Linked DNA regions of Homo sapiens: regions 2, 3 and 4 are each linked to region 1. Evidence: fine-mapped expression QTL. A gene starts in region 1. Each other region holds a variant in brackets. All regions are shown on one strand. Distances are between the middles of the regions. Region 1 holds the start of ENC1 (ectodermal-neural cortex 1). Region 2 overlaps LINC01331 (long intergenic non-protein coding RNA 1331). Region 3 overlaps LINC01331 (long intergenic non-protein coding RNA 1331). Region 4 has its middle 46 kb from the start of LINC01335.

Evidence for each region.
Region 2: its variant is fine-mapped to the expression of ENC1 in whole blood (TOPMed, PIP above 0.99). The same link has a PIP of 0.9 or more in neutrophils.
Region 3: its variant is fine-mapped to the expression of ENC1 in whole blood (INTERVAL, PIP 0.98).
Region 4: its variant is fine-mapped to the expression of ENC1 in whole blood (INTERVAL, PIP above 0.99).

What each region holds. Positions count from the first base shown.
Region 1 is chr5:74,636,526-74,644,632 of GRCh38, forward strand. It overlaps ENC1 (ectodermal-neural cortex 1), which reads right to left and starts at 4,203. Exons shown (of 3, transcript NM_003633.4): 1 at 3,782-4,203. It also overlaps a transcript of HEXB not described here. RefSeq lists enhancers at 3,652-4,011, 4,473-5,188, 5,189-5,902 and silencers at 4,052-4,311, 6,819-7,113.
Region 2 is chr5:74,429,753-74,437,859 of GRCh38, forward strand. The region is part of intron 2 of LINC01331 (long intergenic non-protein coding RNA 1331); the gene reads right to left. Among named protein-coding and RNA genes, the nearest start is that of LINC01331, 100 kb to the right of the region's middle. RefSeq lists an enhancer at 3,986-4,075. The variant A/C (reference allele first, on the strand shown) is at 3,764.
Region 3 is chr5:74,402,337-74,410,443 of GRCh38, forward strand. The region is part of intron 2 of LINC01331 (long intergenic non-protein coding RNA 1331); the gene reads right to left. Among named protein-coding and RNA genes, the nearest start is that of LINC01333, 85 kb to the left of the region's middle. The variant G/T (reference allele first, on the strand shown) is at 3,760.
Region 4 is chr5:74,257,976-74,266,082 of GRCh38, forward strand. No RefSeq gene overlaps it. Among named protein-coding and RNA genes, the nearest start is that of LINC01335, 46 kb to the right of the region's middle. The variant C/T (reference allele first, on the strand shown) is at 3,617.

The DNA.
Region 1 (8,107 bases):
AAATGATGCTCCTGATGTTCAGAACAGCAGAACGAAAGCAACAATGGTTTTGCACAAAAAACAGAACACTTTGTTGTTGACCATGCCACCTACTATTCTAGAATAGTGTATGGCCATTCCAGGACAAAGCCAGAGACAACTACCCGGAAGGAAGGATATTCACTGCTAATACTGTTGAGCTATTTGAACTCTGCACTGTTTAAAAAAAAAAAAAAAATCACTGCATAAAAAGCAGGTTCATCTTGGAAAACCTGATTGCCAACTTTCAGGCCATCGAAGTCTTTTAGAATATAAGTCAGCAAAAGCCAAGAGGAGTGAGTCTCATTCCCACAGCTCCCTGTCCTAGTCCAGCTCATTCACTGCGGGCCACTTAAAATGCCAGGTCTCCTGCTCTTATAATGCCAGGATGGGCACTGGCTTTCATGCCCCATGCAACATAAAGCCATGCGTAAAACAAACACCTAATAATTAATTCCATTAAGAATTCCTTTGGTAAGATCCAATCTCCCAGCACATACAGTAAATGGGAAATGTAAGGCCAACTTCTGCAATGATCAGACCTTTATTTAAATGTTACAGATAATGTATTTCATTTTATATATACTTTTGAGACCAAGTCTCGCTCTGTCACCCTGGCTTGAGTGCAGTGGTGCAATCACAGTTCACTGCAGCCTCGAACTCCTGGACTTAAGTGATCCTCCTGCCTTGGCCTTCCGAGTAGCTGGCACTAAAGGTGTGCACCACCAAACCCAGATAATTTTTTGTATTTTTTGTAGAGACCGGGTCTCAAACTCCTGGCCTCACCTGATCCTCCCACCTCGGCATCCCAACTTAAAGATTAATTTCTAACCAGACAGCTCTACCACTGAAGAGTCCTAAAAGCACCCCAATTTCAACATTAACCATATATTGATCAGCAAGCCTTTAGTCAAAGCACAGAATAAATTCTGGCCATAATCACCAACTACCTGTCTTGCTCGGGACAGCTTCCAATGTGAGGATTTGGCACATAAAAAGAAGAATATTTTGAGTAGCATACTTATGACTGCTGTTTTCTGTTCTTCCCGCTTTATATCAATTCTTGGAAAACCAGCTGCAAGAACAAAAGATCCATCCGTCTTTTGATTAAATAGTGCATCACTAGGACTGTTCCTGTATACCTGCAAATGCTGACACCTGCATAGAAGGAGTTCAAAATGCAAACACTGCTTTATTTAAATCAAAAAATACGTGTGTGTGTGTGTGTGTGTGTGTGTGTGTGTGTGTGTATTTTGCCAGCTGTTGTTAATTTAGGGCCACCCCAGAATTTATTTGCTGACTACAGTGCTTTCCTTGGTATCTACATTGAAATTATAGTAGAATCTAATGCTATCTTTTGGTTTTCTTCAGTAAGAAAACAGTAGGGTAGAGACATAGGAAATGCTTGTCACCCATCTTCAAAAACTGAATCACATGCCTTCATCCTTTTCTTTTACACCATCCCTCTGTTACTTCAAAGGAATGAAGTCCTCAAGAACCTGCCTGTCCAAGGATTCCTAAGGAAGCTGTTTATCCCGCTGTTTATCCCCAGAGGGTAAACTGTGTGGCTGGTTGCAGTATCTGTTCCAGACACATAACAGCCAGTCCCAAAAGCGCAGCTGAAACTCTGTTTCCTTTAACCATTCAGACATTTTTAAATGCATATTCTAAGAATTATTAATAAATGCAAATGAATGATTTGCCACAGATTCATGGGCTAAAATACTAACCTGCACCTCCCCAACCAGATGTGAGCCCCACTATAAGACTGCACAGAAAACCACAAAGGCAGGGGCATGACACATATACCTCATACCATTAGGTGATGCAACTAGTTTTCTTTCCTTTTTGGAATATAATTTTTTATGATGAGTAAACATGGCTGAGTGGAAGAAAGGAAGCAACAAAGTCCTAGAGCTCCAGTGTTAGGAAGACTTTACAAAGCACCCAGTAATTTCCACAGTGACTTGAGATATAAAAAATGGTGAGGAGCCAGCTTCACTCCCACCTCAAGCTAAGCATCTACTGTCTACTCCATTCTAACCAATGCCCAGTGTTTTGGAGAATGACCATATGAACCTATGGGAATGCATCAGGTTTCCAAAGGGTTAAAACATTCATTAGCATTCTCAATGCTCCACCACTGTAGTTGCTATTTTAATTAGTACATTCAATCTGGAGTATCTGGAGGAAGACTTTAAACCTAAACCTCAATAGACTGTCTACTTACTCTTGTGAATCTGCCGCCTCTCTCAGAGCAAATGCTGCCCTGAGTGAAGGAAGAATGAGGCTCCCTGAAACTAGGTGCACAGGCACCAAAATGCTTACACATTGAGCTGGAATCATGCTAGGCCCAGAACACATTTCCTTGAACATTAAATTCAGGATGGTGCAAAACAACATTCACAACCAGACTTACACCTAAGAAAACAATTTGCTTAGAAGACCTTAGGATATAGGATCTACATCTCTCCGCATCCTGTGTTTATGCTCCTGTATGTTCCAGGTTGGCCCAACAAGCCAGAAGGAAGAGCCTAGCCTGTCATCTTGGATACCACCCAGATGGAAAAGCACGTCACAGTCAAAATCACAATCAACATTCTTGCAACAATGTTTGATTAAAATAAAAAGTAAACTTGGAAACCCAAGAGGAAATACTTGCTTTCTGGTTTAAAACTGTGCAAACCTCAAAATATCAGCAGAAACCATGTATACAAGTCACTGAACACACCTTCAACATAAAATGAATCATCTTTCGAGCATTTTTAAGCCCCCAGAGAAATCACATTTGCATACCAAGTAAGTGGCCAAGAAAATGCACACATGTACTTAACCTACGTCTGCAAAGAAGACAGAGAAAGGGCTGCTATTACTGTGAACATCAAAAGGGCTTCAGTTACAGTAACTTCAGTTCACTTCATGCTCCTAACTCAGGCTCTCTGCCTCCAATGCTTAGCGTCCCGCACCCTTCTCCAGGTTTTGAACCTGATCTCAATCCAATCAAAAGAGAAACTAAGCAGATTTTTTTCTGGGCATTTACATTACCGGTAACAATAGAACATTATAAAGATCTTGTTAACAAAAGTAGCTTCTTGCCAGAGTCTTTTTATTAACACTTGCAACGCTATTTAACAAGCTGGCCATGCCTGTGTGACACCAAACCGCATGTGGATAAATTCAGTGTTTCATCTCCAGGCCCACCAATTCCTATCCTTTGTAACTAATAATGTTAACACGACAGATCAAGAAACTAGTTTTTCAGAAAGCAGTTTTCATTCATTCTCTATAGACATTTCCGCCGCAGTGAACATGCCCGCACTCAGGGTGTCTGTGCATGGCCCCAACTTTCCTCCAAGCCGGGGAGGATGCAACGTGGGCCAACCATCCCGCGCGCTCGGCCCTGGAGGCTGCGGGGAGCGACGCAGCGCGACATTCACCCCCAGGAAAGCGCTGCTTTCCGCAGAGGAGAGAGGCTGACTGTATCCTTAGCTCGGCTCCTCGCTTCCCCAGCGGCTCGCCCCAGACATTGCACCGCGGAGGGGAGGCCGGTCGACCTCTCCGGCGATGCCCGGCTTCTGCCTGCTGTGGGAGGGCAGCGGCGGGCACCGTGATCTCCGCACCGAGAAGAGCTCCCCTTGCCCTCTAGTCGAAGCTCCCGAGTGCTCGGAGCACGCTCACCCCTCGCGAACACACCCCTGCAGCCGAAGCAGCCCCTGAAGCCCGCAGCGCCTGCAACAGGTCCGGGGCAGTGGGGGAAACTTACAGCAGTGGCGACTGGCCGCAACGCACAACTGAGTTCTAGCGACGGTCACGGGCAAGGAGGCGACGAACCGGTCGTCTCAGCCCAGGGAAGCGGTGGCGAATGCCCCGGAGAAAGGAGGGCCAGCCGGGGAGAGGACTGCGCCCCGAACGATGGCTCGCGGACCGGCTACCGATGGCGTTCGCCTCCGTCTGTCGTCCCCACGCCGCGGACCCGGTGTCCAGGACCCGCAGAGCGTCTCCGGAGCGCGTCACGGTAGGGCAGAGCAAGCCTGCCACTGCAGGCGCCGCGGAAGGAGGCGGGCTGTGCGCTCGGGGGAGGGAGCTAGAAAGCGCCTTGTGTGCCGGCGGCCGCCAGGCGTCTGGACCGGGTCTCCGCAGCGCCACCGCCGCACCGCCTCCTCTCCGGCTGCCAGAGCAGTCTGCGCCCCGCCGCCGTGCGCCCCGCTATAAGTGGCGCGGCGGGGAGGGGAGGGGGCGCGTATGCAAAGAGACCGACACCGGGGGAGGGAGGAAGCGCATTAGCGCGGCCTGTGGTGTAGGAGGAGGAAGAGGAGGAGAAGGAGTGGGAGGAGGAGAGGAGCTAGAGAAGAGCGTGTCGGGGGAGTTAATCGGGAGAGGAAGCGGGAGAGGGGGGCTGCGGGGAGTGCAGAGAGACAAAGCGGACGCACTGTCTCAGCCGCTGGCAGCTGCAACCCCGGGAACCGAGAATAAAATAAGTTTTCCCGGGTTCGAGTGTCTGCGCCTCTTTGGGCCAGCCTGGTTAATGGACAGCCCCGGATCTGAGGGACCCACCTTAGGGGAGCGCAGCCCGGGGCTGTGCGCTTGGTGATGCCAGAGCCCGCGAGATGCTCTAAAAAGGGCTGCAAGGGGCGAGCTGGGTATCCGCAGGACAGGCCCTGGGCACGCATAGACAGCGCCTTGGGTAGGACACCCAGAGTGGGGAGAGATAGTGGCAATGGACGGGCAAAAGTCTGGACAGTTTAGGGACACTCGGGTTGAGCAAGCCAGGACGTTTAAGTTTCTTGCTGGCAGAGAGCCAAAGAGACTCCAGCCCCAGGCATTTCCTATGTGTCCTCCCTCCCCACTCCCCAGTGGGTGCGGCACCCCCGGCTGGACTCTGCCCTAAGCCAGGCGACTGCAGGGGCAGCCGGGGCGCAGTCCTGCGGGGCGCGCACCACGTGCTTTTCAGCCAATCGCCGCGGCCGCTTGATTCAAAGTGAACTCCTCAAAGCAGCAGCCACGCCGCCTCCTCTCCTAGCGATTAAGCCTCCATCACCTTCTCCTGTTTTTTATCGCTCGGTGGTGTTAGTTTGGAGTTCAGTAAAGAAATGGCCCAGCACACACACACGTTTAATAGTCCCGCGTGTCAGGAGAAGGGAAGGCGATTCGAAAAATAATCTCGCGTGGTGATCACTTTTACGAATCCCATTTATCTTTGCAACTAGAGGCTTGTCTTTCCACTGGGAGTTAAAATATCTGTCTTTTATTCGGTATTTGGAGCTAAGTCTATAAATGAACGGGATAGATGACCGGTCCAGCCCCCTTGTTTTACAGGTGGGGAACCGAGGCCCAGGGAGATGTGAATTGCCTGGCTCGTAGTCACTTAGCAACAATGTCCCAGCTCTGCAGCTCGAGAGTGAGGGCCCCACGACAGAGTTTATTCCGTCCCCGGGTCCCCGCGTCCCCAAGCGCCCGCGCTTCGCCTCCCAGCTTGCTTTAAAACACTAGGCGCAGGAGCGATTTAAACTGGCTAAGGAGGCCCCACATGGCGCTTCCAGAGTCCAGACTGCTGAAACCAAGACTGTCAGTTCTTCATTCTAATTTCATTTTCCTTTATCCTTGTTCCTTCCTGGTATTTGCGCCGAGAAATTTCGCTCCTTGCAAACAAAGAAAGACAGTGCCCTCTGAAGTCCTTTGTTAGCATTAACTCGGCAGCCTCACCACGAACCTTTCAATATATATATTTTTTAATGCAGAGTCTCGGCTTGAGGCTGATTCACAGAGACAGCCCGGATCAATTCATGTCAAGAACCACGTATGGAGAGCCAGGGGGGCTGCGAGGTTAGGAGAGGGCTGGCAAGCAGCACCCAGGTTCTGAAGCAAAGACCAGACAGATGGAAACTCTGTAGACTCCAGAGATAGGTGCTGAAAAGATGGGAGGCGGAAATGTGTAACTATTGCACATATGTCTTTTTAAAACATGTTTCTGTAGCCTGTGGCAAGGTGTGGGGGAGCTCATCAAGGCAGCCACCAACGCACCTTTTAGACACCTCCTAGACCCACTCTGTCTGCTTCCTTTGTGAGTCAAATCTACCTAAAACGGCACCTAGATGACCTTGCCTAGAAATGGACTATGTACATAGCTCAGCTGGTTGGTTGGGGATTTTGCCACAGGAAGCGACAGAACTAGGGACAGGTATGTATCTTTACCACCTAGAAATTGCGGGATGTCCTTAACCAAGGGAACAGCAAAGTTCAGATCCCTTTGCAAAGAACTTTGCTAAGCAGGCAGGGCTGAGAAAGGAAAGAAATCCGCTGGCCATTGTGTCACCATCCGCTGGTGCCACTTTCCTGTATCTTTTCTACCTAATGTTGCCACTTTCTATGCTTCAATAGAAGAAAGGGAAAAAAAGCTGTAGACTGGAAAATCTTGAAATGCATTCAGTGACCGTATACATTCGCTTCATCTGCCTCGGGGAGATAAGCAATACAAGAGAAAAGAAATTAGCTTATGTAAGTCCTAAAAACTGGAAAACATTTTCCTGCTGAAAGTCACAAGAACTAAACTTGCAAGTTTGGAAATCATGGGTGCTACTGATGACCTCCTACAAACTGTACTCTGGTTTGCTTGAGCCAATCTATGACTAGTTTTCGGGCAGTTGGGCAGTTTTTAATGCTTATCTCAGCTGAAAATGATTTGCAAGTTAGCAAATTTATGATCATAGCAATTCAAACGGTGTAATCCCACAGCATCTCTCAGCCAATCCTAAAGGTAACTCTTATCACCCCACTCACACAAAGAAAAGCTGAGCAAGTCTTCATTTTGTACAGGAAGAAACTTCTAAACAGGGCTGTCATCAAAACTGGACGACCATAGACATAGCAGATATCTGAGTCACAAACAAGTCAGGAAATGCTGCTTACACTGTATCCGCATTACACAATAGCCAACACTTCACACAAGACATTAGGCCAGTCCTGTAGGCCCTTGGGAGCAGGTCTTTGCCTCTGTCTTGTGACATCAAACCAAAGTCTCATTTTTTAATGCTATTAAGAAGCTGTGCCCAAGGCTTTGGGCTTGTTATCTCCCCTAACAATGTTATTTTGTTAGGCCGCAAAATAAGCAGCATGCGGTTAAATGTATTAGCTGCCTTCAAACCTAATTTATCTTCATTCCTTCCTAATTTACACTTGGGCTGAATTAATGAGAATGATTTAATTAACACGGTGCGATCATGGTACCAGGGACAGGACAGCTCAGGGAATTAGACCAAACAGTAGGCTAAGCAGCTGCCATCCTGCCTCCGGTGGTCTCCTGAAGCCCCACCCAAATTCAGACATGTTCCCTGCTGGTATTCCAAAAGCGCCCTCTTTGTTTTATGAGGACACTTTCTGAATCTGTGCAAGGAAGATAGCACAGCTTTCCTTCCCCGAGTTATTTGCTAGATGGACTTCAAGGCTGTGTCCTGGAGACAGAGTGTGGCAGAGGGGCCAACTGCCCACCAAAGATTTGTGCTCCCCTTCCATAGTGTCAAGTTCGTGTTGGGAAGTGGACGCCCAGTCAGGGACCACACCTCCCAGTAGCACATATGTTGCGATCAACATCCCTGAAGGGGAAGGGAGGGAAGCAGGGTGGACAGATGGAGATGCTGAGCTGGGATGTGGTCTCAGCCAAGCCTTGGCTGACGCCATGGGGACCTCTGGAGCTGAAATGGCCTCACAGGTTGTCTGCATTTAGGGCAAGAAGGCTTTTATAGGGCTACATCACCCAGTTGCTGAATGCAGCTTGCCCAGGGAAGGGACCATGGCTTTGGGCAAGGTGGTGCTCTTTTGCTGAGGGAGCTGCCAGCACACACAGAGGCTGGAGGAATAAGCCCTCCATTCCCAAAGGAGGATCTGAAGACCTCAGAACAGTGAGAATACAGATATACAAACCTAGGAAAATGAGACCTCAGCTTCCATCAGCAATCCTCTTATTTTTAAAAAGAGAGAGAGAGGAAAGTCTGGCTGTTTATTAAAGAGATGAGAATAAGGAAAAACACAGGTAATCGATACAAGAAATTATCAGCATTTTATAAAACAGTTATCACTTTTTTGTCTGGGGAAG
Region 2 (8,107 bases), 210 kb before region 1:
TTCCCAACCATCGGCCATCTTCAGTGAAAGTTAATGATAGATAGAGGCAGACAAGGGTGGGTCCCTGGCGAAACCCCACCATCAAGCCAAAAAGCCTGAAACCCACAGCCTGAAGTGGGAACTTCTATCCCTGTTTGCCCACTCTCTCCTGATTGGTTCTTTCTGGCCTAGAACTCCTGACCTCAGGTGATCCACCCAACTCGGCCTTCCAGAATGCTAGGATTATAGGTGTGAGCCACTGCACCCAGTTGGTTCTTTCTGAATAATGTCTTTTTACCAATCAAATTTTGCCTTTTCCAAAACTACCTATGGCCTGCCCCACCTCCTATCCTGTGCCTATAAAGACCCCAGACTCAGTAGTAGAGAGGGAGAAGTGGCTTGACTGGAGAGAGGTGACTTGACTTCAGAGCGACGGCTAGACTTCAGAGGAGAGACAGCTTAACTTCAGAGAAGAGCCATGTGGAGACAGCCAGACTTCAGGGAAGATTACCTGCCCATCCTGTCCCCTCTCCAGCTATCCCCTCTCTACTGAGAGCCACTTCCATCACTAAAAAAAAAAAAAATTCTCTGCCTCCACCATCCTTCAAGTTTCCATGCAACCTAATTCTTCTTGGGCACTGGACAAGAGCTCAGGACCCACCAAGTGTGGGTACTCAAAAAAGGTTGTCACACTGGCCCTTTGCCCTTGCTGGCAGAGGACAGCCACCCAACGTGATGAGGCAAGGGGCCCACTGAGCTGATAACACACTGCTGTCCACAGATGGCAGAGCTAAGAGATCATCGTAACACACCCTCTGGGGCTTCGGCGGTCACAGGCATCCCCATCTGGGCACCACCATGGGGCCACATGGAACCTGCTCCTGCCAGCACCCAAAGCATCCAGCCAGATCCTGCACTCGCTTGCTAATGCACTCCCTCCTGCAAAAGGTTGAGCACAGTGGGCCTGGTAAATGGACCACCCCTGTAGCAAGTCCGATGAAGGGGTCAAAAAAAATTCCTGCATCATTAATACTCTCTGCCCTGTGTGGCAAGAGCCCCAGGCTTTCCTCTCCCAGAGCTTTTAACACATGACATTAGCCTTGTCTGTTCACCTCTCAGACTTCCTCAAAAAGTTCCCAGACTGAGAGCTCTTTAAGAGCAGAGATTGCTCCTTTTATGTCTAAATCCTCAGCACTTAGCACAGTCCTTACTAGTAGACACCCAATAAATGTTTGTTGAGTGATTGAAAGTCCAAATCTTTCTATTAAAAGAAAGAAATTAAAAAGAAAAAACGATCACTTTGCTGTCTTCTGGAACAGCTATCTAACCAAACTTCCCAAACCCAGTTGGCACCATGTACAAGCTGATTTCTGTTGCCAGCCTACCCCTGGATCTGCTTTATTGACCTCGATTATTTCCTCATCACTTAGCTAACTGACTGCTCCTCATTCCCCACTCTCCTTTCCCCCTCTGCAGCATCTGATGGCTTTATTTTTAAGTTTTGAGCTGGTCCATTTTCCTCTTCCACCATCTCATCCACCCTCTTTGTCTCAGCAATAATTTGTTTTCTCAGCTCCTCATTTGGTTATTTTCTAAAAGTGCTAGTCACAGCCACTCTCCAAAAGCTCTCAGTAGCTGGCTGATGGACCATTGGTCAATGGAAAGCAGCATCCTTACGCCAGTTTCTGGAAACTAGACAGCAATTAAATGAAGCAATGTGCATAAAGCACTTAGCAGTGCCTTAGACACTTACTGAGTGTTGTCATACCTCCATCCTGGGCAAACTGGCCTTCAAACTGGCCATCCCTCTTCCCATTTATCTTCGCTTGAATTCTGAGCACCACTGCTATAATGACATTCCTAATGCAGAGTGCCAATAAAAAGGAGGGGTTCCCAAATATCCATCCACAGCAAAATGAGAAAGATAAAAACAGTGCAGTGACCTTTCATCACATTACTTATATTCAACTCAAGGCTTTGCTCTTTATTGAGACTATGTACTTCTGCTTTCTGTGTTAAAATGCCCTTTTTATAATGAAACAATGGCAATTTTGTTTTGTTTCTTATTTCAGTATCTTTATTTGGGAAAATAGTTCACAACCATAAATGGCCTACATTTTGTATTTTGGAAACTATATTATCTAGTCTGTTACTCTGGATTTCTACAAGGGACCAAGTAATCCCATTCCTACATTCTTTTCACATTGATAAGAATGAAGAGTTTACTAACACATATAACATTTTAAAAGTAAGATATAGGCAGAGACCCCCCCAAAAAATGTTTATGATAGTAAAGACCTATTTGAGATGTTCACAGCCCTATTTCTTTTATATTTGTTTATTCACACATTTCAATGTCTTAATGGTTATTTGCCGTTAGTTTGCCTTTAGTTTTATAGGCACATGCATACTAATAGTGACTGTCATCAAACACATACACATACACACACACACACACACACACACACACTTTAAAGCAGGCAATTAATCATTTTCTCCCTCAAGACCGTATTTTACAGTCGGAAGCCAATTGTCAGCACATATGCTCCTAAATAAACTGACACACATACCAGCTAATAGATTAATTCGCATGAAGAAGGCGTCGTGGGAAGAAAACCTGTGTTCCCAGATTTCTCAGGCAGGTGCTCTGCCTGTTAACATAAAGATCAGTCCTCCTGGCTCCAACCCCTTAGGCAGTGTGCCCAAAATTACTTATGGTTTCTAACACAGTTGATGCCAATGCAGTTCTGCAATTGAGAGCCTGGTTTACACAACGTATCCTAAGAACAGCTCAGCTCAGGAGCAGCCAGTGTAGACTTTTTGTATGCTGGTGGGGGGGCGTTGGGGAGGAATTGTTTGTTTGTTTTGTCTCACATGTGGCTTTTCTAATAGAAGACAATCATGAAGCAATAATTCATGCCTTAATATTTCTTTGCAGCTATCACCCATTGTTCTTCATAGCCCTCCCATAAGTGGGTGATGTTATGGGTCCTGAGGAAATGGAGACCTATTGGGATGAATTTGTTCAGAAGAGAGAAGGCTTGCACACACGTGTGCATTCTCACAGGCACGCACTCTCTCGCACCACCCTCAGCACTCAGAGCTCTGCTAGTATCCCTTTCCCCTTTCTGACTTTGTATCTCTTAAGCCAGTCTTTTATCCCATGCACTGTGCCTCAGTGGAAAGTTCAGCTTCTCTATAAAACAACTTATTAAGGGAAGGATCACTATAGAGCTTCCTCAGAGCTCCAGAAAAGATAAGCTGACGGTCTGCTTTTCTTTTTCACCAAATCACCCTTCTCAGAGTATTAATGCAAAGAATAGCATGGAGGAGTGGGGAAGGAGGTAGGAGAACATATACATGACACAATTATTAGACTTCCAAAATCCTGTAAAAAAAAAATCTATCAATAGTATTCTGTGTTAGTTTTAGCTTTCTTAAATAAGCATCATCCATGCTCTTTTCCAAACAGGATTCACAAAAATGCTAAATGCATTTGCTGCAGACCAGTTCTGGGTCCTCAATGAAGAGTGGTTGGCAGTCAGGCTAGGGCTGCTCCTGGGAAATGCTGGAAGGGCCGGATGCTCCCCTGAGGAGTCTGTTCCCCCAGATCAGCCTAGAGGTCCAGTAGAATGGTTGCGTCCCAGCAGGATGTGACTCTTTGTTCTACCTATTCCTCTATTGTGACCCTTCAAAAATCCTACCTGTTTTCAAAGACATCATCCTCATTGTTCGTAACCCCCACCACCAACAACAAAAAAGCCAGATTGAGGCACCCGCTGAC[A/C]AAGCAACTCTCTTGTTCTGGCACCTTAAGAAGGAAATGAGTTTACTTCCCTTCTGTAACTGAAGCAAAGCCTTCCCTCCCCGCTGTGGATATGGTACCACTCTGTAGCACGTTTCCTTCAGAGAGTCAGCTTTTCTGAACAATGACCCAACTGTTTGTACAGTATGGGAAACTATCTCTTGATAGAGTTTGGTGCACACCCTCCTACGAACCCAGACATGCACAAAAGTTCCACATTTCACCACAGGAAGTAAGACTGGTCAGGCTTCAGGCATCATTAATCATTTTGAAGTGATTATTCTTAAAAAGAAAAAAAAAAAAAACAGGGATGCAGCTTGAGTTAAGTCATGCCCAATAAAAATCAGCACTTCTCCTCAAAATTACATTTCTCTACTTCCGTGTGGAAAGTTAAGAGCTCCCTGTACTGACAAGAGCTGGGGTGAAATCGAGAATCTTCGTCTCTTTAATTGGAGCACAGACAAATACTTGGGATCTGACATGGTCAGATGGGGAAGAGGTGGGTGGAGTTTTACTTCCTTTGCCTTTCGGCTCAGAAATACACACATTTAGGAGGAAGATAAAGCAAGAACAATTTGGGATTTTGTTCCGGGAACTTCATTTTCCCCCATTGAAATGCCATTAAACAAAGCTTAGGACAATCCTGCTACGTGCACTCATTTAGCCACGGGAACTATGGAGTGCCCCACCCCCCATCCCCATCACTGAGGCCCTGCAGCCCAGCAGGCAAGGGCCAGAGAACAATTTAATTCCCCAGATAGGCTGCCCCACACAGAGGTTCCTCATCAAGGGAGTAGCACCAGCCCACTCTGCAAATCTGTTCACCCTGCAGGAAACACCTCCTTGTCTGCTTCTTTGAAGTAAAACTGTTTCTCTAGCATGGGAAAAGGGATAAGTAGAAAATGAAATCTCCAACTCTGTCTTTCCTGAAAGATTACATTTCCTGCTATCCTGGTTCAGGAGGAAATTCACTTACATAAAATTAGATTAATTTTCTTTCTGACGTCACCTGGTCTACCAGAAGCATCTTTTGTCCATTGCCTCTTTTTGAAACCTTGGCCATGTCCCCAGTCCTCAGTCATTCCTTAATCAGAACATCTGGTTCTCAAGTCAAGATTAAAAATCATAAAATAAAGGCAGAAAAGAGGCTGCCTCTTCTGTCCTTGTTCCGCATTGCCTCCTTCACCCTAGTCTTGCATAATCACTATGTAGATGCCAGCCCAGAAGGCAGCATCATCTTCACTTCCTTCCTCATCAGCCAACTGCTACATATCCCAGCTAAGCCCTAGTATTTGTTTTAATTTAAAGGGTTAAAGTGGAAAAGAAGAGAATCAACAAACTTTATTTTAGTACTCTAATCTACCTATTTTAAAATGTAATACATGTTATTAAATAGATTTGGGCTTGGGTTGTTTTTTTTTTTCCCAGAGTTTAGTTGCTTAAACTCATTTTGTATCTACCCAAGTGGATCCTTTTAAAAATCTGCTAGGAGTCAGATTGAAAATGACTGACAGAAAGCCTGAGCAGGGTGAGAAATGGGTTCACATGGGATGGTGGCCTGGCATGGGGTTTGGAGCCCAAGCCAGGTAAGTGGGGTATCCACAGGGAGACATAAGCCAGAGTGCAAATGCAGCAAGGAAGGAGCTGGGAGTATGAGGTGTTGGAATCCAGGCAGCTACAATAGAAGAGGAGCTGCAAGGAGTAGGGGGCAGCAACAGAGCTGGGAGATGGGTTACATATAGGAGGATGGATCAGTTAAGTAGATATTTTAGGGATAACAGAAAGGGAGAAAATTAGAATGAACCCTGTGTATTGTTGCATTGGAATTGGATATTGATGTGAATGAATAGTTTTCAATATACATACATAAATATAGAAATAAATATAGTTCTGTCCATGGCTAGGACCTGGGAGCAATGACATCACAGTGGCAATGAGCGCACCTAGTGCCCAGATATTCACAGTATTCTAAATACTCTTCTCCACTAAAGGAAATTCAGGCTACTTAGAGAAACAGCTGATTTCAAACCTGGAAGAAAGTGTAAGATGAGTACAACTTCTCATCATGCCAAAAAGCAAGGAAGATGAGGTAGAAATAAACAAGAGTTTATGTGATGAATTACGTTTATTGATTTGCGTATGTTGAACCAGCCTTTCATCCCAGGGTGAAGCCGACTTGATCGTGGTGGATAAGCTTTTTGATGTGCTGCTGGATTCGGTTTGCCAGAATCTTATTGAGGATTTTCGCATCAATGTTCATCAGGGATATTGGCCTGAAATTTTCTTTTTTTGTTGTGTCTCTGCCATGTTTTGGTATCAGGACAATGCTGGCCTCATAAAATGAGTTTGCAAGGAGTCCCTCTTTTTCTATTATTTGGAATCATTTTAGAAGGAATGATACCCAGCCCCTCTTTGTACCTCTGGTAGAATTTGACTGTGAATCCATCTGGTCCTGGACTTTTTTTTGGTTGATAAGCTGTTGTTTACTGCCTCAATTTCAGAACTTGTTATTGGTCTATTCAGGGATTCGATGTCTTCCTAGTTTAGTATTGGGAGGGTGCAAACAGAACCAATGACAAAAACCACATGATTATCTCAATAGATGCAGAAAAGGCCTTCGATAAAATTCAACACCCCTTCATGCTAAAAACTCTCAATAAATTAGGTATCGATGGAACGTATCTCAAAATAATAAGAGCCATTTACTACAAACCCACAGCCAATATCATACTAAATGGGCACAAGCTGGAAGCATTTCCTTTGAAAACCGGCACAAGACAAGGATGCCCTCTCTCACCACTCCTATTCAACATAGTATTGGAAGTTCTGGCCAGGGCAATCAGGCAAGAGAAAGAAATAAAGGGTATTCAAATAGGAAGAGAGGAAGTCAAATTGTCTCTGTTTGCAGATGACATGATTGTATATTTAGAAAACACCATCGTCTCAACCTCAAGTCTCCTTAAACTGATAAGCAACTTCAGCAAAGTCTCAGGACACAAAATCAATGTGCAAAAATCACAAGCATTCCTATACACCAATAATAGACAAACCAAGAGCCAAATCATGAGTGAACTCCCATTCACAATTGCTACAAAGAGTAAAATACCTAGGAATACAACTTACAAGGGATGTGGAAGGCCTCTTCAAGGGGAACTACAAACCACTGCTCAAGGAAACAAGAAAAGACACAAACAAATGGAAAAACAGTCATGCTCATGGATAGAAAGAATCAATATAGTGAAAACGGCCATACTGTCTAAAGTAATTTATAGATTCAATGCTATCCCCCAACAAGCTACCATTGACTTTCTTCACAGAACTAGAAAAAACTGCTTTAAATTTCATATGGAACCAAAAAAGAGCCCATATAGTCAAGACAATCTTAAGCAAAAAGAACAAAGTTGGGGCATCACACTACCTGACTTCAAAGTATACTACAAGGCTACAGTAACCAAAACAGCATGGTACTGGTACCAAAAAAGATATATAGACCAATGGAACAGAAGAGAGGCCTCAGAAATAATGCCACACATCTACAACTATCTGATCTTCAACAAACCTGACAAAAACAAGCAATGGGGAAAGGATTCCCTGCTTAATAAATGGTGCTGGGAAAACTGGCTAGCCATATGCAGAAAACTGAAAATGGACCCCTTCCTTACACCTTATACAAAAATTAATTCAAGATGGATTGAAAACTTACATGTAAAACCTAAAACCATGAAAACCCTAGGAGAAAATCTGGGCAATATCATTCGGGACATAGGCATGGGCAAAGACTCCATGACTAAAACACCAAAAACAACGACAACAAAAGCCAAAATTGACAATGGGATCTAATTAAACTAAAGAACTTCTGCATGGCAAAAAAAACTATCATCAGAGCAAACAGGGAACCTACTGAATGGGAGAAAATGTTTGCAATCTATCCATCTGACAAAGGGCTAATATCCAGAATCTACCAAGAACTTAAACAAATTTGCAAGAAAAAAACAGCCCCATCAAAAAGTGGGTGAAGGATATGAACAGACACTTCTCAAAAGAAGACATTTATGCAGCCCACAAACATTAAAAAAGCTCATAATCACTGTTCATCAGAGAAATGCAAATCAAAACCACAATGAGATACCATCCCACGCCAGTTAGAATGGCGATCATTAAAAAGTCAGGATATAACAGATGCTGAAGAGGATGTGAAAAAATAGGAAGGCTTTTACACTGTTGGTGGGAGTGTAAATTAGTTCAACCACTGTGGAAGACAGTGTGGCAATTCCTTAAGGATCTAGAACCAGAAATACCATTTGACCTAGCAATCCCATTACTGAG
Region 3 (8,107 bases), 230 kb before region 1:
TTTTCTTCTATTACTATTATATAATATTTCCTCTATTACTACTACATACTATTACACAGTATCTGGTGTTTAGTACATGTTTGATCATTGTTGAATGAAAAAATAAGCTCCCAGTTCAGGTTCTCTTCTAGTTTACCTACCATAGCCAGCCTGGCCAGGAGCTAGGAGTGTTCAGCTTGGAGCCAGAGGCAGGATCCCAGGAGCAGGTTAAGAGGAAGTGATTGACAACTGCCCGCAATGGCTCCTGCTGGGCACATTTTACATCCCAGGGTCTGGATCAAAGCTGTCAGTTTCTGCCCTGTCTGTTCCTAAGTGTCATAACTGGAGCAAAACTCCTTCATCAGCCAGTCTGGCCACATCACAGACACGTGGGTTGGACAGCAGAGGCTGCCTGGCTCTTTTCAGGTTCCTATGGATACAGTGTCTCCCTTGACCCACTGAATTCATCTGTGTGGGCAGCTGCCACTTCTGGACTACAAATACACAGTAAGCAGGCGTGTAGGAGAGCAAGAATAGGGTAGAAAGAGCACGTAGGAGGAGGGGAAGAAAGAACTGAGAGAGAGCCTATGGGTAGAAGTGGGCAGGAAGGAAGGTTTGGTCTTTTTGTTCCTACAGAAGATGTTTTTGAAAAGCTTCTTGACAATCAAACAGACTTTTGAAAAAAGTTACTTTTGCTAAATATAAAGTGTGAAAATCACCAGTGGAAGATTGCCTCCCTTTCTGCAGCCAGGGCAGAGCTCTTGGGTGTATTTTGATCAGTAACTTCTAGACACATCCTTCACAACCACAACTAGGCAGCCAAGCATTCTGACATGTGCTTAACTAAGAAGCAAATTAGGCAGCCAATTTGTAAAAATGTAATATGGCGTCCTTTCTCCCTTCTGCTTATTTCATTGATAAACACACATTCATGCACATTGATGTACATAGTAATAATAATATTAGTTTACATGGCTGACTCTACAGTTTCTGTAGAGCTTTTGCTTAGAGCTTCACAATAAATGAAGCAGGCAAACTGCATTGATTAGATAGTCCATGGTTTCCGAGTTACTCAGTAGAGGTGCAGTCTAGACTCAAACCCCGGACTCCAGCTTCCAAGAATAGGCACACTCATTCCCACACCCAAACCCCCCACCCCCATTCCATGCCTGGCTGCTGGCTAAGCCACAGGCTGCTCCACAGTTGGAGTGTAAGGGATAAAGAAAGAGGAAATGAATGGTTTAAGTTGGGAAGGGCATCTTGACAAAGTTGTTAGAGTCTACCAGTTTTTTCAAACCCCACATTAGAGTACAGCAAATAAATGCATGTCTAATCATCACTCCACCGGCTTCTAACTTTTTTGCTCATCACTTTCTCTGAATTTATACATGGAAGACTTTTGAATGTGGTTCCTACACTGAACCAATCTCCAAAATTAAGGTTATGGCTTCTGTCCCCATGGGGGCCTGTAAGTTGAGGTCCATATGGCAGCCTATGATGGCTATCCCCTCCCCATGAGCCACAGGATGTCTCTGGGCACAACACAATGCCTCCTTTTCAACCGCATTTTATCAGTTTCTCAAATATCTGTATTTGTGGGCCAAGTGATGACAATACACTACATTTATAGAACATTACAGTCTCTGGAGAGCCTTCTGTTTTATACACCCTACCCACTACACCCTCCCACCATAGGATTCCCTCCCTGGCCATGAGGCTGATAGGACAGATATCACCATTTTAATTTTACAGATTCAGATATAGATATATATATATTGAGACAGAGTCTTGCTCTGTCACCAGGCTAGAGTGCAGTGGTGTGATCTTGGCTCACTGCAACCTGTGCCTCCCGGGTTCAAGCAATTCTCCTGCCTCAGCCTCCCAAGTAGCTGGGACTGTAGGCACATGCCAGCACGCCCAGCTAATTTTTGTATTTTTAGTAGAGATGGGGTTTCACCACGTTGGCCAGGATGGTCTCAATCTCTTGACATTGTGATCCACCCACCTCAGCCTCCCAAAGTGTTGGGATTACAGGCATGAGCCAGGGCGCCTGGCCGCCTGGCTATATATTTTTTTGTCAAGCTCTAATTCCACAGTTGACTGAACTAAATGATATTTAGTTCAGGACCCAGGTAACTAACCAAAATTTAAGAGAGAAATTATTTGAAATTGAGAAAAAATATTTGACTCTTAATGCTGTTAAACATGATATGACTAACTCCCACTCTACAATGTTCTTCCAGTTTTCCCATCCATGGACTCTGCCACCAAGCAAAGAAGAGGATTTACATATGACCAACTTCAGCAGAGCAAATGGAGAAATTATATGGCTGTGTTCCAGCCCTGGCTGGTTACATATTTTATATTTTATAGCTATTTCTCTGTCAGAATTATAAATCAACCACACACACAAAAAGGTCTAATTTAAAATGGGGCATATCAGAAAATCACAACTCAGCAAAATATGGCATTTTCCTGACAAATACTGCATAACTAAACTATATATGCACATTCTGGTTTTAGAGACTGTCCAAACTACAGGGTGATTTGGGACTTCAGTTCCTCATCCCTGCATGCTGGACGGATTTCAAGAAGATAATTAAAGTCGACGGTACCTGGTATATGAAATCAAACACCCATCCTCTACTCCCTGGGTTTGGAAGATCAAAGATAATAAGCCTGTCATAAACTAAGGCAAAGGGCCACCAGGGAGTGACAAATCCCTATCAGGTTTAAATTTTGTCAGAACAGTCAGTGTAGAAATAGAGTTGGTGAACATGCCAACCCTCCCTGTAACCTAGTCTGAGCAGCACTGAAGGAAAACTGGCCAGGCCTTTCAACATGTTGGCAAAAGCCACCCCCTGACATCCTGGAAAAGAGCAGAGAATGGGAGAAATGTGCTGGAGAGCAGAGCTCATCTGTCCAGCCAGCACTCAACTTAACTGTGGCCAGAACCTGCCATTGGATATTTCCATGCAGTTATTAATAAGCTCTACACAAAAACTACCTGGAGGCTGAATCTGACTCTGGGATTTGGTGTTAAATACCAGAGGGTATACAGTGTCCTGCCAAGGATAAATTTTATAACCCTACATTCCTTTACTGGTGATTTATATTCCTTTCCTTATCAGGTTAGAAAGAGGTAAGGGTACAATCAACGGATTCCTTATCAAATCAAAAGTCCTAAGGTCTGGAATATGTTATTGAACTTGTGAACAAAAGACATTCTAGGATTTGAGATATCAATTCAACTTGTTTCTTGCACCATTATGATAAAAAGGAGAATTCTTTGTAGTTTATTATCTCACATCTACATTATCTTAATTTATCTTCCCAACTCTGCAAAGCAAGCAGAGCTGATATTCTGTTTGAGAGTGTGTGGATATGAAATTGAAGATCAGGGCCTGAATAGCTTCTCAGGTTCCCATAGCCATTTCCAGAGCTGTCTCATGTTTTCTGACCCCAAGTCCAAGTTCTCTCCAACACAGTCTTTCCCGGGCAGATTATAGGGGTTCTACCCACTTCAACAGCAGGTCTTCAAATAATGTTTCATTCAATATTATTTCGTTATAACATTGATGAGAAGGAAAAAAATAGATTTCTCCCCAGAGCCGCTGTCTTTGTGGAGTTTGCATGCTCTCCCCGTATCTGTGTGAGTTCTCTCTGGGTCCTGCAGTTTCCTCCTATATCCCAAAGATATGCACATTCAGTTCATTGGTGTGTCTAAATTGTCCCTGAGTGAGTGTGGGTGGGTGAGTGAGTGCACCCTGTAATGGGAAA[G/T]TGTCCTGTTCAGGGTTGGTGTCTGCCCTGTGCCCCAAGCTGCTGGGATAGGCTCTGGCCACTGTCGACCCTGAACTGGAATAAGCAGTTGAACAATTATCTTGCTTGTTTGTATTAATCTTAAATCTATGTATAACTCAAATTTATTTCAATGCTTAATATCCAAAGTATATTGGTGTTTATTTGGAAGTTCGATGTTTTGAGACCAAAAATATGCTGTAGGAACTTAACTCTTGTTTATATCATTTAGCCTATGGTAAAATTGGTTTCGTCATACACTATTTTGCTTATAGTTGCAGTTTCCAAGAACCTATCAACAGTGTTAAGTGAGGACTTACTGTATTGCTATCTTAATAGTCCCTGGTATGAGCAATTTATCACATAGATGAAACTCCTTTATAAAGAGGTACTTTTAGCAATTTGACAGCTGAAATCCTTCAGGTGGATCCAAAAGGTACCCATCTGGTATTGCATTCTGTTCTTTCTATAATGGTCTAGAGTAAGTTTATTTTAATAGTTTAACTATAAAATATATTCACATTCATTATTAATACATGGTTTATGCCTTTAAAACAATTAGTCTAAGGCCTTTGAACAAAATTTAAAACATTTTAAAAGCATCTTTTAAGGAACAGTTTGCATTGTTTATTCAGTTCAAAAAATATTCATTGAGCACCTATCAAGCATTGTCTAGGGCAGTAAGAAGGCAGAAGTGGTCAAGACAAGGACCCTCCTCTAAAGAGCTTAAACCAGAGAGAGGAAGTCAAATAAGAAAAAATAAATAAATGCATGTATTGCTCTAAGAACTAAATTGGAACAAGGGCAGAGGGATCCAGAAGCAGAGAAAGGGCACTTGATCCAGTTTCAGAGAAGGCTTTCCAGGGGAAATAACATCAATGCCAATAGTTTGGGAGAACAGAGTGTTGTAACATGTTTCCAGCCTCATGTGTACCTCCAGGGCCGCTGGGGAGCTCTGACGAATATTTAAACGCACATGTCCTTTCCCACTGCTTTGCTTTACCCACTCTACTCCTTTAGCCAGAAAACCTCCTCTTGAATTTTATTCCTATATCATCTTCATCATCCTTCACAGCTCAGCTTTAATGTGGTGTCTTCTCAGAAGCTTTCCTTGACCATATTTGAAGAAACTGAACTAAAGCTAATCTGAAAAGCTTGTAAATGCAAGACTCAAGTTCTATTACATTGCCCTTGATCATTCAGAAATTCTAAGCCCCTCAGCTAAATTTAGTCATTAAAAGATCACTGTCCATTCTTTAATGTTTTAAGAATAAGTTGTACTATTTCCTAGTTGACTGTTAGTGGAGCCTACAGGGGGAAATCATGGCCATTCCTAAATTTCTCCAAGGCTTGTGTTATTGCGGCATCTTGGTCTCCAGCTGAAGCCCTTGGGGAAAGAGATAAAGTTGCCCCTTCTGTTCCACTGGATCCCAGCTTGGGTACGTCAGGCAGCTTAAAGGGTGACCACCATCAGAATCCTTGGTCAACTGGTGGCAGTTTGGGGTGAAAACATGTCAAAATTACATTGCAATTTTTTTACTCTAAAATTACATAGTGGTTCCTTTGACCATCAGTAAATCTTTACAAATGGGACCAAAACAACTTTCTTTGGAGACACCATGGGACTAAAGAAAGAGACAATATTCCTATTATAGAATTTTGCAAACTCTCCGGATGTCCTAACAATAAGTTACAGATGTTTAATCCTAAATTAAGAAGCTAAATATAATGTGGACTTTACAAATGGCAATTTTCTATAATTTGAGGAAAATATCTGGTAGCTCAGTTCCCACTAGAAATGTTTGGCAATGGTTCTGCTCTCTGTTAAACATCTCTGGTATGATTTCCTAAGGACAGAATCATAGCAGAAGACAACAGATTTTTTTTTTTTTTAAAGAAAAACAACATAGAATTGATCAAGAAACTATAATTTGAATTTTCCTCTGGGCATGTGGGTATTGTTTTATAACTGAGAGAAGCATTAAAATATCAAGGGAACTACATTCATATTTGTATTAATTCTATTGAATCATTTCTTGGCTTATCATATTTTGTGTTATTGCCTTGTTCTCCTTTGTTTTGAAAAGAAACTTTATCAGTTTTCCTGTGTCATGCCATTTTATCTCTTCACTCTGCCTGCAATAAGATATCAGCCTAATATTGGCAGAGCAACTCCGTACAATGATCCTTTGTTCTGGGAAAAAAAATTGCATGAATAGTATATTATTAAAATAGAGAAGGAAGTGTGTTTCATTTGTTATTTATTTAGTGAATATTGTCATGGTACCAGGTGCTTTACAAAAGACAAATAAGTGAAGCAATAATACGGTGCACTTGGATCTTGCATTTAATGTAAGGATCTCTGAGTACTTACCAAACACTGACTCATAAATCAACTCACTTCAGATAGGATGTAAAGGTTGCTTTAAATCTACAGTCAACTTTGCAGAACCTGCTGTAAAAAATGCTCCACGGCACCAAGCACTGTACAGCCTGCCTTGCCGCATCTCTGATACCTCTGAGGACACAGGGAAAGATGAAATCACAATGGGAGTGGGGCTATGAGAGATGGTGGGTGAATTTTGAAGAAAGGAAGCTAGAAAAAAAAATGGTAACAAATAGAAGAGAATCTGGGAAACTGAAAGCTAAAGCAGTGAATTTCATAGACAACTGACAGATAACTTCAGGTTCTAAACAAATGCAAACTTGACAGCTGTCAGAGTAAATATTTTATTGACCTTAGATTTGGCTCTTATCTTTGTCTAACACATTCGTGACTTCTGAAGTTGGTTTCTTCTGCACAGGAGAAAATTTCTCGAAATTTTTCAAGATATGAATAGACTGGATTGTATTTTTCTAGTCACAAAGCTGAAATCTGCTCTATCCTTAATAATTATCACGTAGAATTTGCTGCATACCATCTTGATGTGAAAGTTGAAATTAGGAAAATCTTACCAACTCAGATCACACTAAATTCTGAATCTGTCGGAAGATAGCCAGAAATCTGTAGAAGACTACGCTTCTGAGATTTTTCAGGTAATGCCCAAGCAGGGTTACAGCTGTGACACAGCAGAGGCCAAAGGCAACAGACAGCAACCATTCAGGTATCCCTGACATCCCTCTGCAGGCCTTCACAGAGAGTCAAAACTCAATATTTCAAAATGTATGCTTTTTCTCTCGGAAGAGTTTGGTGAGCCCTATAATCAGAAAGAAAACAGACAGCAGAGGGCCGGCAGCCAGGTCTTCCAATTACTATTTCAAAATCAGGAACCAGAGACCATGCCTGTGCAGAGGATCTCAGCTTGAGCCTGGGTTTTCTGCCATCCATTTGCAGGGTCCAGGCCTCTCTTGGCTTAGGCTGGTGGCTTGGGCCAGATGGAAGTCTAGTGCATGGGGAATGAGCAGCCTCTTGGGAACAAGCCAGCATTGCACCTGCTGCTGGGAAGTGTGTGATCTGGGCACATTACAGTCTAGTGGAGTACCAGGCAAAATTCCACTCTCAGGGAAGACGCAGGTACCCCCAGGAGACAGCTCATTATAAGAGAGGAAGAAGCCAGGAATAGGGCTGAGTAACGAAGTCTTAGAATTCAAAGAGGGTGTAGGAGGGGTCTACATGGAGCAAGTGGTCTCTACTCAATGCCCAGCCCAATCCCTTAGACCACATGCTTAGGTCCTAGGGAGAGGCACCATAACAAAACTTGAGTAGCTGTTTCAATAGATGTTTTAGCCCACTGGGCTCATGTCCCACATCTAACACAGTGTGACACAAAAGGACAGGAGCCCTTCTTCCTGACTCTGCCAGAGGCCATTGCCAACTTTGGCACTCAGTGATTACAACTGTGCCTGCCCTGCCTGACAAGCCTCATAAGCTCAGCAAGAGTGACTCCAGGTTGGAGAACAGGGAAGAGGAGCTGCAGCCTGGGACAGCTCAGATCCATAGGCAGGAGGGCCTGGGGACACCTGTAAACCTCTCCTTGAGGACCCCTAGATTACTTGAGGGAGGAAAAAAAGAACATTATTAGAGAGCTTATGACAGCTGTTTGAGAAAATAAGGTATTTGGGGTTGTGATTCGAATAATTTTATGTGTCTGAACATTCATAATTTTCCCACATTTGCAATTTCAGCTATTGTCTGTTTCAAAATCAATACATGACAAGAGATTGCACGTTTGTCTTCAGAGAACATGAGGAACAGGTTAGATGAAAACCTACTCCACAGACCCTATTGGGAAGAACACAGCAAAGTCATGGAGTGGATTATTGGTGGAAGAAAGAGAAACAGGGTAATATTTTAGGTTCTGCAATAAGAAAGAAGGTGAAGTTTGAAGAA
Region 4 (8,107 bases), 380 kb before region 1:
TGATAAACACAACATAAGTTTTTAAGGGGCCACTCTGCATGGAACACAACTTTGATATCTGAGAAGCAGTCAGACTTTGCCCTTATGAGGAATCAACTTAAAGCTTGTAAAATACACCTGTGATTCTAGCATGATTTTTTTTTTCTTTTTTAGGCAAATAAGCTGCTGCCTCCTGGCTGCTCTGCAGTTTCTAAAGCCATTTGCATGTCTTCTTTTGAGGAATTGGCCTCTTGGTGCTTCAGGGAGGCTTTTGAGACAGTGAAAATAGTTTTACCAGTTGCTGCCTCCCAGTCACTCAGGGGTGATATTAAATCTGGGGGCAGTTAACACTCCCTTGAGAAATAAATCAGGGAGATGAAAGTCTCTCTTAAGCCCTACAAGACTCTCTGCTTTCAGGCATCTTCAATGTTTAAAAAACCTCTCCCTCACTCTCATTTCATGGCATTTCTCTTTGTGTTTCAGCAGACAGATGGAAGAGAGGATCTTCATGGGGATTTCCACTGGAAGCAGGTCCAAAGGAAGAAATCCTGCATTCCCAGAATATATTGTTCTTTCCTGTCCTTTGCTCAAATCTTCCCAAATTCTTGCATTTTGCAGCTGAGCATCTTGAGGGGAAAAAAAGAAAAAGAAAAACTAGGAAAATCAAATGTAAACATAATGTATAGATTATATTGTCAAATTGAAAATCAAATCAGAAACGTAATAGCTTTTATTTTTTTTCCTTCTTTTTATCCTTTTTCAAATGGAGATTAAGTCTTACACTCAGAAACATTAAGTCATACTGAAGATACAGACCATCTATTCCTGATCTTAGGACCGCCACAGATGTGTTGGCATCCAGAATACACTCCCATTCTCTACCTGCAATGCCCTGCCCTCTATTTCCAAACATCCAACTCCTACCGGTTCCTCCATAGTCAGCTTCTAATGCCCCACCCTCCTTGAAATTTTCTCTGATTTTCCTAGTACCACAGGTATGAGAGACTTCATAGTGTCCTGGTTAGTAGCACAGATGCTGAATCCAGTCTTCCTGTGTTCACATCTCAGCACTGCCTCTGGACATCTGTGCAACCATGTACAAGTTGCCCAGCCTCTCTGTGTACAAGTCTCTTCTCCTACAAAATAAAGACACAAGTAGAATCCACTTCACAGTTCTAAAATTAAGTGTTTTGATATACTTGAAACACTTTCAAGAGTGCCTTACCTATAGTAATCACTCAAGTATTAGCTACTATTAATACTCTATTACCTTTTTTATTTCTCATGGGAGTATCTGAATGCTTTCTATTGGCACCCATTTTTGTAAGATATTTTGCCTGTATTCTTATTTGAAACCATATTTTATCTTCCATCTCTTAAGGGAAAATTTGGGGCTCCATTCTGTTTTCCTTAAAGTCATCTGGTAGAAAAGATGGATTGACTACCAAGCTCGAGAGCAAATAAAAATGGTGTGTTAGGCCACACAGCCTCCTTGACATCTGGAATCGAGGTACAGAGAGGCAAAATTAAAGGAAGTATCACAGAAGACTTGAGTTGTGAGCAGAGTATATAAGGAAAGAAGGGCATGAAATGACGAGAGAGAAAGATTGCAGGGTTCAAAGAAAAATGTGTGGAAAGGCAGGGTACCACCGGGTCGGGCGTGTGTAGGGTGAGGGATTGAGGGAATGGTGGAAAAAATTTTTACCAAGACTCTAACCTAAGGGACCACTGTGATTTTTTAGAAAAAAAAAACCAACAGCTTCCTTTGGCATCCAAGTAACCACGGCTTCTGTGTCTTTCCAGGGGGCGCTGCTTTTCACCCTGCCCAGTTCCTTCCAAAGCACCTCCACTTTTGCCAAGGGCAGAGGAAAACAAACCCATGGACCTCTGTGCTGCCCACTCGCACTCTCTCAATGACACCTGCTGCCCTCCTCCACCTCCATTCCCTACCCTCAGCTCCACTCGGAGCCACTCCTAGTCCTGAGCCCTGCTGGATTCTCCCTGCCAACCTTGCCCTCCCCCAACCCCTGCCAGGCAGTGCAGCTTCCCTGTGGGATACCCTTGGTGCCAGGCAGATGTTCTCTCCCATGCCAGCAGAAAGAATGAGCTCCCATGGGTGGCCTCTTGCGTGCTCTCCCTCTGTACCCAATTGGGGAGGTTCCCTGTGCTCTGAACCACTCATGAGGCTAGGACTCAAAGATATCAAAGCAGGTGGGTATGCGCGTGTGCCAACACTTCAGGAAGGGACTAGATCCTGAGTATCCGTGTTAGTGAGAACACCAAAGATCATCCGGTTGAGCCCCTCATTTTAGAAATGTGGAAAGGAGGCTCAAAGACACACGACCTGCTGCATGTCACACAGCAACTTTGCTGCAAAGCTAAGGCTCCTTTCATTCCTTTAACCTGTGGGAAAACCCCTTCCAATTCAGATGCTGTTGTTTTCTTCTCTCTGGTCTCATTTCCCATATTGAAATTATACTGAGTTTTAATGAGTAGAATGTCAAAAGCATTTAGAAATATGATCTTCAAACTCTTTTGACCATGACCCACAGCAACAAATAAATTTTTTTCATTAGCCAGCATATATAACTGAATGAAAGGGTTTGTGATTCAGTACTTATCCTTCCTAACTGTGATGCATAATGGTATTTTTCTATTGCTGGGAAATATTGGTTAGGCCCACTAAATTGAATTCAGGACAGACAATTTAGAAAACATTGACTTGGGAAGTGTCTTTATGTGGGAACCACACAAGAGCAGATGAGACAAGGACTTTACTCGGCAGGTGAGTCCAGGAAACACCAAAGTGGGGGTGAGAAAAATAAGATGGGAAAAGAGAAAAGCCACAGGCCACTTGTGTAGGTAAACTGAGCCTCAATCCCACGAGGACCCTCTAAGAAACTGTTTAGCATGCACCCTGAAATTATCCCACCATGGTTGGGGGACCCCAGGTACTTATCCATGGACTTCATAGCCTTATGTTGAGGATTTTCACTGGGAATATTAAATCCATAAAACTGCTGCACTGCTCTGGGAGTGAGGCCACAGAAAGCCCTCAGGCAGAGAGAAGCAGAGAAAAGCAGAGGGTCTAGGTGTTTGGGGCGGGAAGCTGTCAGCTGCAGAAGCCATCCACTTCTGCTGCAGGTGAACTCAGGGTGGCGGGAAAGGGACCTGGAGGTGTGTTAACAGCAGCTGCTGCAGAAAATACCATGTTGTCTGAGGCTGCTGTGCCCTCCTGTAAAGCATCCTTACTTGGTTTCAAAAGGAAAAAGCCGACAGAGCACGGTGGCTCACGCCTGTAATCCCAGCACTTTGGGAGGCTGAGGTGGGCAGATCACCCGAGGTTGGGAGTTTGAGACCAGCCTGACCAACATGGAGAAACCCCGTCTCTACTAAAAATGCAAAATTAGGCGTAGTGGCGCATGCCTGTAATCCCAGCTATGCAGGAGAATCACTTGAACCCAGGAGGCAGAGGTTGCGGTGAGCCGAGGTTGAGCCATTGCACTCCAGCCTGTACAACAAGAGTGAAACTCTATCTCAAAAAAAAAAAAAAAAAGGAAAAAAGGAAAAAGCCAAAAAGTGCCATGTAAGTAGAAAAGAAAGGGTTAACAAAATGAGAGATGCTGTTAGAGTCAGT[C/T]AATCCAGGAAACATACCAAACACTCCCTTCTCGTTTTTCACTTCATTGTAATATTGCTGACTTAAAGAAAAGGCCAGGAGAAAATTAACTGCATTCTGTAATCAAACTGTGTAGAATATTGCTGCTTGAAATGTTATGATCTGAAATGTCTGTGACTATAAATCCAGACCTTAATGATATAAAGATTTTGACTGCAGATTTTTGTCATCTATTTTTGGTTTTCTACCCACATATCTGGATGTCCAACAGCTAGGCACCTCTGTGATACTTGGGCCTGTAGAGTGATCCAGGAAGCCAAACAGAAGGCACTCACATATTTATTATCTAAAAAAACTTCGAAGCCCGTAAGGTTGAAAGACTCCATATAACTACAAATTGTCATCATACTACAAATATGTCTGGATAGACAAGTCCAATGGAAGACTGCATTTTCACCAAGGACTAGGTCCTCCTGTTCATTGATTGAACACACATTTCAAATTTCCCAAGCCTGGCATGTTTACACCCCAGCATGTGCAGTCCATCTGGAACATATGGACAGGGGAGGCGGACAGGCTCTGGAGCTGCTGGGGAAAGAGGCCTGGATGCTTGGCTCACTTCTGCCTGTAGCTTGTTGCCTTGGACAAGTTCTCTGAACCCAGTTTTTCTGAATCAAGAAAGCACTTTGAAGGGTAAGAAAGGGCTATGTCCTAGTCCTGGATAAAGGATCAAACAGAGAATTGCATCTTCTTAGTTGCATAATTTGCGATGCCCCACTGGTCACTGCCTTGACCTTTCTATCCAATTTTCAGATGCATAAACTACAAATGAAACCAGATATTGGAAAAAAGTATCAGGGCTTATTAAAATGGGACTCTCTGTCTTGCTTTTCATAATCATCTTGCTTTAAGCTCCATACAAGATCTGAAAAAATGGATATGCTCTCTTTTTATGCTTATTTTTATCACCATTGTTATCATCTACTCCCATACCAGCACACTTACTGAGTGCCTACAGTGCACAAAGCATTGTGCTAAGTAATCAATGGGGATTCAAGGCCCAATAGTCACAGTTCTCAAGAGGATTTTATTGAAAGTTAAAACTTACATGTATAAATAGAGATATAACATCATGAGGTATCATGTGATAAAGACAAGATAAGTGGCCTGAATAGCTGATGCCATCAAAGGTTAGAAAAGCCCTTCTGGTAAAGCAGGCTAATATCCTGTGATTTGCACTAACCCTCAACAACCATTCCTTCTCTTTTTAATATTTACAACCAGTTCTCCACTGGATACTTCTTATAAGATTTTAAAAGGCTCAAGCATTTTCTATTCAAAACAAAATTCTCACCAGGCCCCTTCTGACTAACTGCTACTATCCTGAGGCTAGCATCTCAAGTGTCATCACCCTCACTCTCCCCATTTCCTCCCTTCTCACTTACTCCACAACTGTTTGCAACCTGACTGCCACCCTGAAACAGCTGTCCTTAGGGTTACCAGTCACCAGCCTGCTATGAAATCCCAGGGACACTCTACAGTCTTCATTCTTCTTGACTTCTCAGCAATCCTAATCACTTCCACCTTTCATTCTTTTTTTTTTCTTTTTGACAGAGTCTCACTCTGTCGCCCAGGCTGGAGTTCAGTGGCACTATCTCGGCTCACTGCAACCTCTGTCTCCTGGGTTCAAGTGATCCTCCTGCCTCAGTCTCCTGAGCAGCTGGGACTACAGGTGCACACCACCATGCCCAGCTAATTTTTTTGTACTTTTAATAGAGATGGAGTTTCACCATGTTGGTCAGCCTGGTCTCGAACTCCTGACCTCAAATGATCTGCCTGCCTTGGCCTCCCAAACTGCTGAGAATTACAGGCATGAGCCACCTCACTCGGCCCCTTTCATTCTTAAATAAGCTCTTTTATGGCATAGAATATAATATTATAAAGTGCAAAAATCATGAACATAAATGTTTACAAAATGAACATACCTTTGTAACCACCATTTGGATAAATAGGGTATCGCCAGACCCCTAGAAACCCCTGTCCTGGTGTCACTTTCCAGTCACTACTCCTACTGAGAGGTAACCACAAACAGTGGATGCTGTGGTGTGCCCCCCAGGCCCCCTCCACGACTCAAGCATTTATTCCCCTACTAGGAGTGTTGGCTACTAGCTGCTCTTAGCCTAGTCTCACTCGAAGACTTCCCTGGGTAAAGAGAGCCTTACCCAGGGTCCTGCACCATTCCTCAAGGTGTCTCACATCCAGTGACCAGTTGATCGTAAACGACTGGGATGTAAAGGCTGTTTGTGTGTGTGTGTGTGTGTGTGTGTGTGTGTGTGTGTGTTTAAAGACAAGGTCTCACTTCACTCTGTTGCCCAGGCTGGAGTGCAGTGGTATGATCATTGCAGCCTCAACCTCCTGGGCTCAAGTGATACTCCCACTTTGGCCTCCCAAAACACTGGGATTATAGGTGTGAGTCATCATGCCCAGCTGCCATCATCATTAGAAAGCTCCCCTTTAGGTTAGCTGAGGCCCTGGTTGTGACTTCATCACAGTTCACCTTTTCCTTCTGACCTTCACAGCATCCTTCATTCACTCTCATGGGCTGACCCTCAGGTCACACCCCAATTGACTTACTGCACACAAATCTCTGCTTCCTGGGGAATCTAAGATGTGATACCACAGACTAACTGCTAACATAGATTGCTTCACATGACTTTGAACTTTATAATAAATTACACAGTGTGTGCTTTTATGTGCCTGGTTTCTTTTGTTTAACATTCTGTGAGATTCATACATGTTGTACATAACAGTAGTTTGCTCTTTATTGTAGTATCATTTATGATATTCTTTAAATAAATGTGCCACAGCATAGTTATAATTTTTCTGTTTATGGCCTTTTAAGTATTTTCTAATTTTTGGTTATTATGAATAATACTGCAATAAACATTTGTGTACCTATCTTTTGGTGCTTATAAATAAGAATTTCTGTTGGGCATATGCCTAGAGGTATAATCGTGTTATATAAGGTATATTTATGTTCGGATGTAGTGAATATTGCTGAGGAGTATTCAAATTATCTTACCACTTTATACTCCAATTAGAAGAGCATGAGACTTCCCATTGGATTTGCTATCTGGCCCTTTATAGAAAAGGTTGGCCAATCCCTGAACTAAGCCAAAGAATGAGAGGAGCACAAGTATTAAGGCAGAAAAACACCTGATATATCTTCAAGCAAGGGTAAGAACACCAGTTTGTTTAGGTAGATAAGACTAGGTAGAAATACAGTTTGGATCAGAGATCAGCAAACTTTTTCTATAAAGGGCCAGATTGTGAATTTAGGCTTTGCAGGCCTTATGGTCTCTGTTGCAACATTCAACTCTGCCATTGTAGCTCAAAAGCAGTCACAAAAAATAAGCAAAAAAATGAGAGTGGGTATATCCCAATAAACCTTAATTAAGGACACTAAAATTTGTATTTTATATCATTTTAATGTTGTCACAAAGTATTACTCTTCTTTTGATTTTGTCCAACCATTAAAAATTTATAAGGAACATTCTTATCTTGTGGGGTAAACACAAACGGGCAGTGGGCTGGGCTCGGCCCATGGGCCATAGTTTGCTGACCCTTTTCGTAGATGGTGGAGGTCTAAATAATCTCAACTTATTTGATAAACAAAACATTTAGCATTCTGGGGGGAATGGTATGATGTATACAAAGCAGTGTTTCAGGGACTCTGAGCTGATTGCGGTATTTAGGATGAATTGGGGAGGGAGAGATTGGAGGTTGGATGACCAGTTAGGGGGCAGCATGGGTAGACCTAGTAAGGGTTGGTAAGGATCTGTCACCTGGTGATGACAGAGAGAGTGTGGTGAAAGAGATGGGGCATATGCAAGAGGATATTAGGAAGAGGTAAGAAAAAGATTTGGTGACTGGTGAGAGAGAAAGAAAGAAGACTCGGTGCCTAGCGCCAGGATTTTCAGCATGGGAGACAGGGTGAAGAGTTTGATGATAAAATGGTTGAGAGACATTAGAGATCAATATTTAGGGCATGGGTACTGGAGCCAAAAGGCCTGAATCTAAAGCCTGGCTTCCTGTTTTACAAACTGTAATCTCTCTGTTTCCTCCTCTGCAAAATGGGATTAATAATAGCATCTATTTCATGAAGTTATTATAATTCATACAAAATGCTTAGAACAGTGCCTGGCACATAGCATGCGCACTGCAGGTGCTAGCTTTTATTGTTAATTGTATAGTGTCTTTTTAAAAATAACAAAATAGGGCTGGACACAGTGGTTCACACCTGTAATCCCAGCACTTTGGACAGCCGAGGCGGGATGATCACTTGGGACCAGGACTTCAAGACCAGCATGGGCAACGTGGCAAAACCCTGTCTCTACAAAAAATTAAAAAATAAAATACATTAGCTGGGCATGGCAGTGTGTGCCTATAGTCCTAGCCACTCAGGAGGCTGAGGTGGGAAGAGCACTTGAGCCTGGGAATTTGAGGCTGTAG